3 linked regions of the Homo sapiens genome follow. The protein of the gene in region 3 purifies or fractionates together with the protein of the main gene of each other region. This does not show direct contact. Each region holds a gene or a part of one and is shown on either strand. Other genes may lie near its edges. The genes, in order: NEMF, RABL6 and KLK12.

What was found.
Region 1: the proteins of KLK12 (region 3) and NEMF purify together in Homo sapiens (affinity purification with mass spectrometry; one large-scale study listed by BioGRID and IntAct). This does not show direct contact.
Region 2: the proteins of KLK12 (region 3) and RABL6 purify together in Homo sapiens (affinity purification with mass spectrometry; one large-scale study listed by BioGRID and IntAct). This does not show direct contact.

The regions. Positions count from the first base shown.
Region 1 is NC_000014.9:49,828,759-49,832,403, forward strand, and holds part of NEMF (ribosome quality control complex subunit NEMF), read right to left. Parts: intron 3,520-3,645; coding exon 3,449-3,519; intron 3,369-3,448; coding exon 3,293-3,368; intron 2,604-3,292; coding exon 2,541-2,603; intron 669-2,540; coding exon 591-668; intron 505-590; coding exon 296-504; intron 50-295; coding exon 1-49. UniProt on the Homo sapiens protein: Key component of the ribosome quality control complex (RQC), a ribosome-associated complex that mediates the extraction of incompletely synthesized nascent chains from stalled ribosomes as well as their ubiquitin-mediated proteasomal degradation.
Region 2 is NC_000009.12:136,824,854-136,828,498, reverse strand, and holds part of RABL6 (rab-like protein 6), read right to left. Parts: intron 2,721-3,645; coding exon 2,673-2,720; intron 6-2,672; coding exon 1-5. UniProt on the Homo sapiens protein: May enhance cellular proliferation. May reduce growth inhibitory activity of CDKN2A.
Region 3 is NC_000019.10:51,032,109-51,036,305, forward strand, and holds the start of KLK12 (kallikrein-12 isoform 2 precursor), read right to left. Parts: upstream 2,895-4,197; 5' UTR 2,698-2,894; exon of another isoform or gene 2,687-2,697; intron 2,533-2,686; 5' UTR 2,514-2,532; coding exon 2,477-2,513; exon of another isoform or gene 2,317-2,476; intron 2,032-2,316; coding exon 1,872-2,031; intron 28-1,871; coding exon 1-27.

The sequences.
Region 1 (3,645 bases), on a different chromosome or scaffold from region 3:
GTCACCATCAACATCATCATCTTCCTCCTCTGATAACAAGTATGGATTTCTATTAAAAATATTCAATAGCATTTCACTAACGTCAATGACATCACTTTTATTTTCAATTTTCTTCTTCAATAAAATTATAAATGGTTTACAGTACTGGAAGTTTCATTATTTATTTTAATCTAAATTAGTTTTTTCCCTTTCTTTGAGAATTTCAAAATATGAAGAAAAAATGTTTAATACAGTGAACAATTAAAATAACAAAATAAAGACAAGCATTAACTGCTTGACTAAGAGTCAAACTTACCTTAGCAGCATTGTAACATGGTTTGTTTGTAGTTTTAATTCTTTGATTGCACTTGCAACAGGGTCTCCTTGAGCCTGGGCTTCTTTCACAATTAACCCAATTTCTGTCCAATCTATCTGGTTAGCTAAAGCACTTCGAACTACCTGAATGGCTCTGTCAACTATTTGTAGGTTCATTTCTATGAGCTCTCCTTTCAGTTTGTCTATTTCCTTAAAAAACAAACCACACACATTTACTACATTGCCAGTTAAAGTTAACATTTTTGAAAAAGCACTGAGAAAGCCAAACATAATACCTGAGCCTGCTGAAGAGCTTCCAATCTGTTTTCGTGATCCTTTCGAACATTATCTAATTTCTTCAATGCTTGCTTTTCCTTTTATTGGCAAAACAGATTTTTTAAAAATTAGATTTCTCCTACCTCATGACATCCCTCTCTTACTTCCCAACACTCACTATCCTGACCCCATCTATGCTGTTATCTAGCTAGCTGAAGTTCCCATAGTCTACCACCCTAGGCCTATCCCACTACAATGCGTTCCATGCCCCAAAATTACTTCTCCTGTCTTCCTAACTCCCACTCCTTATATAGAAAGGTATTTTGATTACAGGTTACTGTGTATATAAGATATACCCCTAATACCCTTGGCATTATTCAAACAGGCAGAAATCAAGACATTTTTTCCTATGGCACAAAAGTAAAGTTTGGGAGAACGAATTCTTTATTTTTTTTTAAATAATAGAGACCGGGTCCCGCTATGTTGCCCAGGCTGCTCTCCAATGTCTGAGCTCAATCCTCCCACCTTGGCCTCCCAGAGTGCTGGGATTACAGGCCTGAGCCACTGCACCTGGCAGGGAATGAATTCCCAAAGAGCATAAATTACCAAATGACTTTGTATTTTTTGCTACTTTTGATTTTCTCACAACTATTTCCAGTATTTTACAGAAACTTTTTCCCCTAAATTAATAAGACAAAGGCTCATGGTAGTTATTTGGCATTTTATCATATATACTTTACATTTCAAGGTTATCAATTGGGGGACAAAATTTCTAACACTAGTAATATCATCAATTAATGAGTATTTAAATGCTAGATGAAATATTTTTTAAAATTTAGATAAGAATGATGACTATTAAAACCCACAAAATAATTACCAAAATAAATCACTAGTATTTTGACACCCATGAAACCATGGGGTTCAGTTTACTAGCCAAAGTGCTGCCACCATGTGGTAATTACATGATGTATATAATTCATCTGACTGGCCTACCTGCTTTGAAATTGTGCTATGATTAACTAATTTTTAAAAACTGAAGAGGAAGTGGTACAGGGATTCAAACAATTTGATTTTTTTTTCTTTAAGGCAGAGTCTCACTCTGTCACCCAGGCTGGAGTGCAGTGGCACAGTCTCAGCTCATTGCAACCTCCGCCTCCCAGGGTCAAACAATTTTTGTGCCTCAGGCTCCTGAGTAGCTGGACACCCATACCACACCCCATTAATTTTTGTATTTCCAGCAGAGACAGGTTTTCACCATGCTGGCCAGGCTGTTCTTGAACTCCTGACCTCAAGTGATCTGCCCGCCTCGGCCTCCCAAAGTGCTGGGATTTACAGGCGTGCGCCACCGCGCCCAGCCTCAAATAATTTGAAATTTTTGCACACATATTTTAAGACTGTTTTTGAAAAAATCAAATCCCCTTCAAATCAAGAGTGACTATTAACAATTTATGAAACTGTTCTGCAGCAAATGCTCTAAAAACATGGTCAAATGTGCTGGGAAAATACTGTATATCACTTCTTTTGGAGTCATGATACACAGAAAACATATTAAGACTTGGCTTTAAAGTCCATTTAAAAAAGAAACAGTTTAATGATAAACAATATCCCCTCCTCTGGCCTATTTAAAATCTCCCTAAAACAGTATCTCCTTAACAGCAATGTTTGAGAAGCTTTGGGTTGTTCTGAGCAAACCACATTAAGGTGTAAATAACAGGCCTCACGTTCCCACCGTATTTTCCTTTTTTTACAGAATATCTGAAATACTCATGAAACAAATGAGGACATACTTTTCAACAATAAAATCCCCCATGGACCTTCTTCATAAACCTTTATCATAAATAAAGAGGCAGGTCAGAGAGTTCCCATACTACTTCTTACACTCTTTCTGAAAGGCTACCCTTTCCTATATCATCTACCCATCAAGCCGCTAAAGACTAGCTGGTTTAATATGTGTTTTTAATAATACATACCTGTTGTAAAGCTTTTAAGTCAATTTTCTGGCCTTCTATCTTGGAATAAAATTCATCCACCGCCTTATTAAAAAAACAAACAACTAGTTGGAAAAAAAAGCACAGTCTCTACTTCAACTTGCATACACAGAATTTTATTTTTTTTTTCTTTTTTTTTGAGACAGAGTCTCACTCTGTTGCCCAGGCGGGACTGCAGTGGCGCGATCTAGGCTCACTGCAACTTCCACCTCCGAGGTTCAAGTGATTCTCCTGCCTCAGCCTCTCAAACAGCTGGGACTACAGGTGCACCCCACCACACACCGCTAATTTTTGTAGTTTTTCAGAGACAGGGTTTCACTGTGTTGGCCAGACTGGTCTTGAACTCCTGACCTCAACTGATCTGCCTGCCTTGGCCTCCCAAAATGCTGAGATTATAGGCATGAGCCAGCAAGCCCAGCTGCATACACAGAATTTTAGATTCCATTGTGTTTCATAACACCACTCAAAGAACTTGAACAGATTTCCGGTAAATGTATTATATGGCTAAACAGTATCAAGAATCAAATGAAGTTCAAACCTCTGGTCCTTCATCCTGAAATAAAGTGGCAACAATTATTTCCAACAGCTGTATCTGTGACGACACTGATCTTTAATGCCCAGATTCACAGTGAATGTAAAGCAAGTATAGTTTCAGTTTCTCAATAGAAGCAAGTTGATATCAACAGCTCATATCATGCTAACTAACTGGTAAAGGAACAGAACGGAAAACCCACCTTGTCAAATGATTCAAATTCTATATATGGACATTGTGAATGTTGAGAAAACAAGAAAGGATGAAATTCCTCATACCTGTAAAACATATTTATTATATCACATTCGAGAACATTAACAAACATCCAAAGCAAATTGACCCATGCCTATATGCTTACGTCAGTATGTCTTCAACTGGTTTATCTGCTTCCAAGCTTGGTTTTATTTCTCTTTTCTGAATGATATATCCCTACAAAAATGCAACATTAAAATCATTCCTATTCATAATTAACAAAGATTTACTTCTTTTTTTTTTTTTTGATACAGTCGCGCTCGCTCCATCACCCAGGCTGGAGTGCAGTGGTATATTCTCGGC
Region 2 (3,645 bases), on a different chromosome or scaffold from region 3:
TTTTCCTTATTTAAAAACAAACAAAAATTACGAGGTGGAACCCCTGGGCCTTGGGCCATAGGAGGAGCATGGTCCCCCCATGGCCACTCAGCCCCCAGCTCCAGCGGGTGCTCTACTCCACCACCCCAAACAGCCTGCAGCGTGGGCACCCACAAGCTCTGGAGCAGCAGGACCTGGGCGAGGCCCCTCTGTAGGCTCTGGAGGCAGGGCTGGGCCGGGCCTGGACAGGAGGTGCTAGTTGGGGCTGACAGGCTCAGCAGCTCCTGGACAGGCTGCGGTGGGATGGCCTACAGCCCTACACCAGGAGGGTTTGCTGCTGAAGGAAGGGCCCCCTCCCCCCAGCTCCCCCAAGTCCAGGGTGGGAGGAAGTACAAGGGATATGGTGGGAAGGTGAGGGGCCTCCCCCTGGGGTAAAAGTGGGGAGATGAGCGCACGGACTCTCAAGGCAACAACCAGCCCGGGAGGAAAGGAGAGGGGGGCAGGGATTCCAGCCCTGAAATGGCCTCGGGAGGGAGGAGGGCAGCTGTGTGGTGTCCACGGTCCAGGTCCCCCTGAGCCTCCGCCATCAAGGTCACCATGGCTCTCCTGAGAATGAGGGGCCGTGGTCCCCTCCCTTTAACTCCACAATGCTGACCTGAGGATAAAGGCTCCAGACCATCCTGGGAACTCTGGGGGTCCCAGTCTTGGAGTCACGGACTGGGACAACAAACAAAACCCCTAAGAACAGATGGGGCTCATGTGTTTAAAACGCCACGTCCACTTCATTCCACAGCTTGTTTCTGAACTGCTCACCACGATGTAACCCAGTCAGGGGGTCAGCCCCTCCCTCACAAGGTACAGGGGACAGAGCCAGCCCGGAGGAGCCTCCCCAGTCTGGCCACAAAGGGCTCAGCAGAGTCCCCAACACACACACAGCACAGCACTGCTGGCTGTCGGGGGCCTGCACCCAGGAAGGATGCTCACAGCCTAACCAGCACCCCCCGGGCGAGCCATTGAGACTGGCTGGATCTGCTTTGGGGAAAGCAGGCGGGACTGGAGGGGAGCCGGGTCCTGGCTGACCAGGCGGAGGTGAGGATTGTCGGCTCACCTGAGGCTGCTCCATTCAGCCTCCCTCTTGGCAGCCTGCCCCATGCAGCGTCAGCTAAGCCTGATGGCCTCGGCTTCCTCTCACCCTTGAGAACTCACCAGGTGCCCAAGAGACCTCAACCCCCTCCAATGCACTCCCCACCGGCCGCCCTGGCTGCTGTGGACAGTGCTCACACCTCGCACAGTGGGCACTGAGTCAGGGCGGGGATGGAAGGCACACTGGGCCCCATCATGAAGCTGGGGACCTTTTCCTCCTGAGGGGCCCTGGTTTAGGCTGAGTGAGACTCTCCCGGTGGGTGCTAACAGGTGGGTGCAAGGGTACACATGTAACCCCAGAGGAAGCCCAGGGCCAGGCGGCCTCTGCACCCACAGGCCTCCACACCAGCCCCGGGCACAGCAGGCCACCAGGAAGGGGGGGCCCATCCTAAGCCGTGGAGACCACACCCTTTACAGTGCCCAGTTATGAACCCCACTCTGGGCAACCGTGTCTACGGGAAGCCTGTGCCCGCTCCACGCCAAGGACAGACCCAGGAAGCCAGAGCTGGAGGCACAGGAAATCTCTGCAGCTCCGAAAGGGGCCAGGATGGGGGTCAGGACGGCCCTTCCTGAGCCACCTGGGGGCCACAGGCAGATCTGATAGCTTCTCCTCACAGTGGGGATGAGGACAATGATAGGGCGGTGGGTGGCCACCTCTCTAACACCAGAGACCACGCAGAGCTCTGCAGAGACAGCATCTGGAACACCAGGTCAGCACGGGCCACAAGAGTCCAGCGCAATGTGGTGGGAGCCGCAGGGGCCCAGCACCCCTGCGGGAACTGCATGAGCACCTGCCTCTAACCCCCCATGGCCAAACCCACCCCAACAAAGCACAGGTGGAGGGAGGGGAGCATGCGCCATCCGAACAGACACCATCACACAGAGGCGGCGGCCGCCTTTCCAGCAGAGCCTCGTAACGAGGCCACAGCCAGGCCTGTGAGGCCGGGGCGTGCACGTGGCCAGCCCTGCACACACCACACATGCACACGGACCATGGGCCCCGGGGAGGGCCATGAGCTCCACCCTGAGGACTTAGAGGAACTCATGACCTTGTGGCTGAGGAGGAGACCAACGATGTCGAGGACACCCCGGGGGCTGGTGCTGCCCTCCCACGGTCCCCAGAGTGCAGGTCTGTGTGGCTGGGGATCCCTGGCAGGGACAGGAGCGCAGGAGCTGGGTCCTCAGCTATGGGCAGGGGGCCGCCTGGTGCTGGGCTACTCCGCCAGGCAGTGCAGGAGGAGGGCTCCCAAAATAGCACCCTGGGCCTTGGGGCTCAAAGCACACCCCCCGGCTGCACCTGCCGCCACCGTGCACGCGGTCACTCAGAGACGGGGAGTATGCTAAAGCAGCAAAGCATGCAGTGCCACAGGAGGGGCTGCGCCACGCTGCGGGGTCGCCACTGGATGTGGAGGGGAGCAGAGCAGCAAGACCCTGGGCACCGTCCACGAGGATGGTGGGTGATGCATGGGCGCCGGGGGAAAGAAAGGAAGCCTCTCTGCGCAGAGCACACAGTCCCAGAGAGAAGCAGACACAGAACAGAGACGCCTCACCTTTGTCTACTACATCCCAGACTTCAACCTTCACGATGTCATCCGTGGCTGAAACAGGGAGAATCCTAAAATTAGTGCCCAACATGAAGTTCCCAAGGTGGCACAAAGCGGTCCAGCTGGTGTGGTTGTCTGTGCCCCGCAGCCACCGGCTCCCACCAGGACTTCCGAGTGTCCAGAAGCAGGGGATGTGTCCTCCCCAGACGACCACATGGCGGCTCCTTCAGGCCTTCGCTCAGACACAGCTTCAGTGACAAACTGAATGCACGGTATCTCCCTCCGCAGCCCCAATCCTGGGCACGGCCCCTCCCTCCCGGGCCCCGATCCTGGGCACGGCCCCTCCCTCCAGGGCCCCGATCCTGGGCACGGCCCCTCCCTCCCCGGCCCCGATCCTGGGCACGGCCCCTCCCTCCCGGGCCCCGATCCTGGGCACGGCCCCTCCTGGCCTCAGCATACTGGAAGGGGACCCTCCTGGCTGGGTCGATGTCTGTGTTTTTGCCCATGGAGTACGCTTCTGCTGACAGGTGCGAATGAATGGGCCCGCCTGTGTCACCTTCTGACCCTGTTTCTTCATCCAGTGACTGGCCTCTAGTTCACTTTGAGGGAGCAGAATCTAAGTAATCACTGAGGGCGGAGGCCGGACCCTCCCTTCGGAGCCACCTGAGAGGCCCCAGGCCTGCCTCACACCGCACCATCGCAGCTGGGCCTGCTGGTGCCAACCACTCCTCCTGAGCTCCCATGACTGTGCTCTGTTGTGGGGCGTGCTGGGGACTGGGGGAGCTGATGGATGGAGCCTCCCGCCCACCCAAGGATTCCAAGGGGAAGGGAGAACCAGAGGGGAGAGGCACGCCCGGGGCCCTCACACAGCCAGGCATCTGCCCCCACACCAATCACATCCACGTCGCCTGAGCAGAGGGGCATGAACGCTGCCATCAGCCTCACCCCAAACCAGGAAGAGGGTGCGGTGGCAGGTAGA
Region 3 (4,197 bases):
TGTTCCCCCAGGCGCACCCAGTACCTGCTGCCGGTGGCGACGGCTGAGCGGGTGGCAGGCACGCAGTCCCCCACCTTGCACCCCTCCACGGACACTCAGGCGCTCCTGCCGCTCCCCACTGTTCTGCCCCTCACTGTCTGTCCTCTCACCCGCAACTCTCATTCTCCGAGTCTCTCTTACAGGCTCTTATTCCCAACCTCCATCACCCTCTTTCCATCTTGGGTGTTCCCTGTTTCTCCTACCATGTCCCTGCATCTGTGTCTCTCTCTCTCCTTTTTTTTTTTTTTTTTTTTTTCAAGACCGAGTCTCGCTCTGTCGCCCAGGCTGGAGTGCAGTGGCACCATCTTGGCTCACTACAACCTCCACCTCCCAGGTTCAAGCAATTCACCTGCCTCAGCCTCCCAAGTAGCTGGGATTACAGAAGCATGCCACCATGCCCAGCTAATTTTTGTATTTTTAGTAGAGATAAGGTTTCACCATGTGTGTCAGGCTGGTCTCAAACTCCTGACCTCAAGTGATCCGCCCGCCTCGGCCTCCCAAAGTGCTGGGATTACAGGTGTGAGCCACCGCGCCAGGCCTCTCTTTCTGATTCTCTCGGCTGGTGAAGCCCATGAAGGCAGGGACATCAGTGGACCTTGTTCACTGCCTTATTCCCACCGCCTGGCACGGAGCATGTGCCCTCCATGCTCATGCGTGGACGAGTGGGTTCATGATTGAACGAGTGGGTTGATGAATGGCCTCTCTGCATCCTGCTGCTGGCCCTCTCTCTCCCTGAGTCTCTGTTTCTTTGCATCTGATCTCCCCTTTCACAAAAAAAGTTCCAGGCCAGGCACAGTGGCTCATGCCTGTAATCCCAGCACTTTGGGAGGTCAAGGCAGGAAGATTGCTTGAGCTGAGGAGTTTGAGACCAGCCTGGGTAACATAGCAAAACCCTGTCTCTACAAAAAAAATTTAAAAATTAGCCAGGTGTGGTGGCGCAGGCCTGTAGTCTTAGCTCCTTGGGAGGCTGAGGTGTGAGGATCACTTGAGCCCAGGTGGTTGAGGCTGTAGTGAGCCAAGATAGCATCACTGCACTCCAGCTTGGATGACAGAAAGAGCAAGACTCTGTCTCCAAAAAAAAAAAAAAAGAAAGAAAAAGAAAAAAATTCCAGAACATCAGTCTACTGAGGCCCAGAGAGGTGCCAGGCATAGATTCTGAAGTTGCACAAAGAGTTTGGGTCATGTTGGCCGGGTGCAGTGGCTCACACCTGTAATCCCAGCACTTTGGGAGGCCAAGACGGGCAGGTCATTTGAGGCCAGGAGTTCGAGACCAGCCTGGCCAACATGGCAAAACCCTGTCTCTACAAAAAATACAAAAATTAGCTGGGCATGGTGGCGGGTGCCTGTAATCCCAGCTACTCAGGAGGCTGGGGCAGGAGAATCACTTGAACCTGGGAGGCAGAGACAGCAGTGAGCTGTGATCACGCCATTGCACAGCAGCCTGGGCGACAGAGCGAGACCCTGTCTCAAAAAAATAAAAAAAAGAAAAAGAAAAAGAGCTTGGGTGAGACCTGGGCCCCGGGCCCAGACTGGGTCAAGGAATGGCTGGGGTGAGTGGCAGATGTCATATAGGAAAGAAAGGGTACATGCAGGAATGGGAGAGGCAGGAGGGCAGGTTCCAGGACCCTCCCCGGCCCTCCACCCAACATACCTCACCCTGCCCAGCACCACCCCAGGCCCACTGCTAAGGAAGTTCCACTCCTGGTCTAACCTCAGACTCTCTTGTTGCAGGATCAGCTTCTTCCCAGTGGGCACCACCCTCCCTTGTGATCCTACCCCCAGCGCTTGCCTTCCCATAGTCCTCCCTTCGCCCACCCCAGGAAGGGACTTACCTGCCGCTGCAGTGAGCCGCTGTGAGGACCCACCTGTGGTCAATAAGGACACCCCCGCAGCGCAGGCTGGTGCCCTCAAACAGCCCCACCTGCCACGGCTGTGAGTTACGCCCACACTCAGTGCCATTGAAAATCTTCGGTGTGGCTGCCTGGCTGAGCCCTGGAGACAGACAGGGGCATGGGTCAGAGAGAGGAAGAAAAGATACAGAGATGGAGAGACACACAGAGTGAGAGAGAGAAACAGGCAGGAGAGAGAGAGGAGAAAGAGAGACGAGAAAGAGAGAGAAAGAGAGAGAGACCCAGTGATAGAAAAAGACCATGAAACATCAAAGACACCCAGGGAGAAAGATGCTTACACATAGGAGGGAAATGGAGAGACAGAGATTCAGAGAGGGACAGAAGGGAAGAGGGATCAAAAAATAGGGGAGACCGAGGTGAGCAGTACCCTGAGAGCTGCAGGTAAATGGAGGCACAGAGAAAGCCCCTCTCCTCCTCACCACCAGGCTGGGGGCCAGAGCTGAGATGGGGAGGGTGGTGGGGCCTCCTCATGGGGGTGAAGGGATCCAGTCGCAGTCCTGCCCTCTCCCTGCTCCGGGAGAACTCACCAAGAACACACAGGAGCAAAAAGATGCTGAGCCCCATGGTGGGTCACTTCCAAAGTCTGGGGGAAAAGGGGAATCTCAGAGGTCACCCTTTCCCTGTGCCCCCCACCTCTGCCCTCTCTGCTTCTCTTTGAAGGTCACCAAGGGGATGACCTGCTTGTCCTCTCTCTACCTGCTCCCCTGTGTGTCACTCCCTCATTGGCAGTCGCCTACCTCCTTCTCACCTTGTCTCTTTGTCTGCCAGATCCTCTACGTGGCTGTCACTGTTTGGCCTGTCCTCGTCGCTGCTATCTCTCCGTCCACCTACCTGCCTGTCTTCTCATGTGCTGGCCACTCCGCCAGCCAACTCTACCACTCTGCACCTGGCTCCTCAGCCACCTGTCATGTTGCTCAACCGGTCCCTTTCCTTCCATCTGTCGCTCCAGACAGACCACTGACAAAGCTCTTAACTCTCTTTGTCCTGGCCCATCCAGTTTCCGGGTTAAGGGAAGGGGACCACGAAGACAGGGGTGGGGCGTGCTCTAATTCTGCAGAAACTCTTCTCAGCTAATCACACTTAATTGAGCTTTACAGCTAAACGGAGTGGGGAAGGAGGAAAGGACCCAGGGTGGGAAGACCCAGCCCCACTCCCTCTCTCCTCTGCAAGCCCGTCAGCAGCCCCAGGACTGATGACTCAAGGTGACTAGGGAGCTGGGTTCTAATCCTGACTCCAGTGACAAAGGAGGGTGGGGAGACCTTGGACACCTGGGGCCCATCCCCATGCAGTGCAGGGGAGGGGCAGGGGGAAGGAGAGGCTGTGAAAGCAGGAGAGTGGACGGGAGGGGCAGGAAGCCCAAGCTAGAAAGAGTCCCAGAAAGAGAAGAAGAGTTGAAGGAACAGACTTCCAAATAGGTGATCAGGCAGGGGTAGAAGAGAGTTTCTGAACTGAGTTCATATATGTACATATGAAGTGGATCAATCTAATTCCATAAAGTTTTTCTTTGCTAAGAACTTCTATTGCTTAAATAAAACCCACAGAGAGAAAAAAAAAAGACACAGGGAAGGAGAAATGGTAGAAAGAGAGAGAGAGAATGAGTCACAGGACAAGGGAACTTTGTGCTGTTTTTTGTTTTTCGTTTTGAGATGGAGTCTCGCTCTGTCACCCAGGCTGGAGTGCAGGGCTGTGATCTCCGCTCACTGCAACCTCCACCTCTTGAGTACCTGGGATTACAGGCACGTGCCACCATGTCCGGCTAATTTTTGTATTTTTAGTAGAGACGGGGTTTCACCATGTGGGCCAGGCTGGTCTTGAACTCCTGGCCTCAAGCAACCTGCCTGCCTTGGCTTCCCAAAGTGCCGGGATTACAGGTGTGAGCCACCATACCTGGCCTCTGTGCTGGTTTATCTGAGTTTTTGCTTCATCTAGGAGGAATGGAAGGAGAGAAAGAAGGAGAGAGAGAGGGGACAGAGAGAGAAAATGAGAACAAAAAGGGAATTCGGCTCAGAGGAAGGGGGATTGAGAAACAAACCAAGAGAAAAGCAGTCAGGGCCAGGCGCGGTGGCTCACGCCTGTAATCCCAACACTTTGGGAGGCCGAGGCGGGCAAGTCACTTGACGCCAGGAGTTCAAGACCAGCCTGGTCAATATGGTGAAACCCCATCTCTACTAAAAATACAAAAATTAGCTGAGTGTGGTGGTGCATGCCTGTAATCCCAGCTGCTCGGGAGGCTGAGGCAGGAGAATCC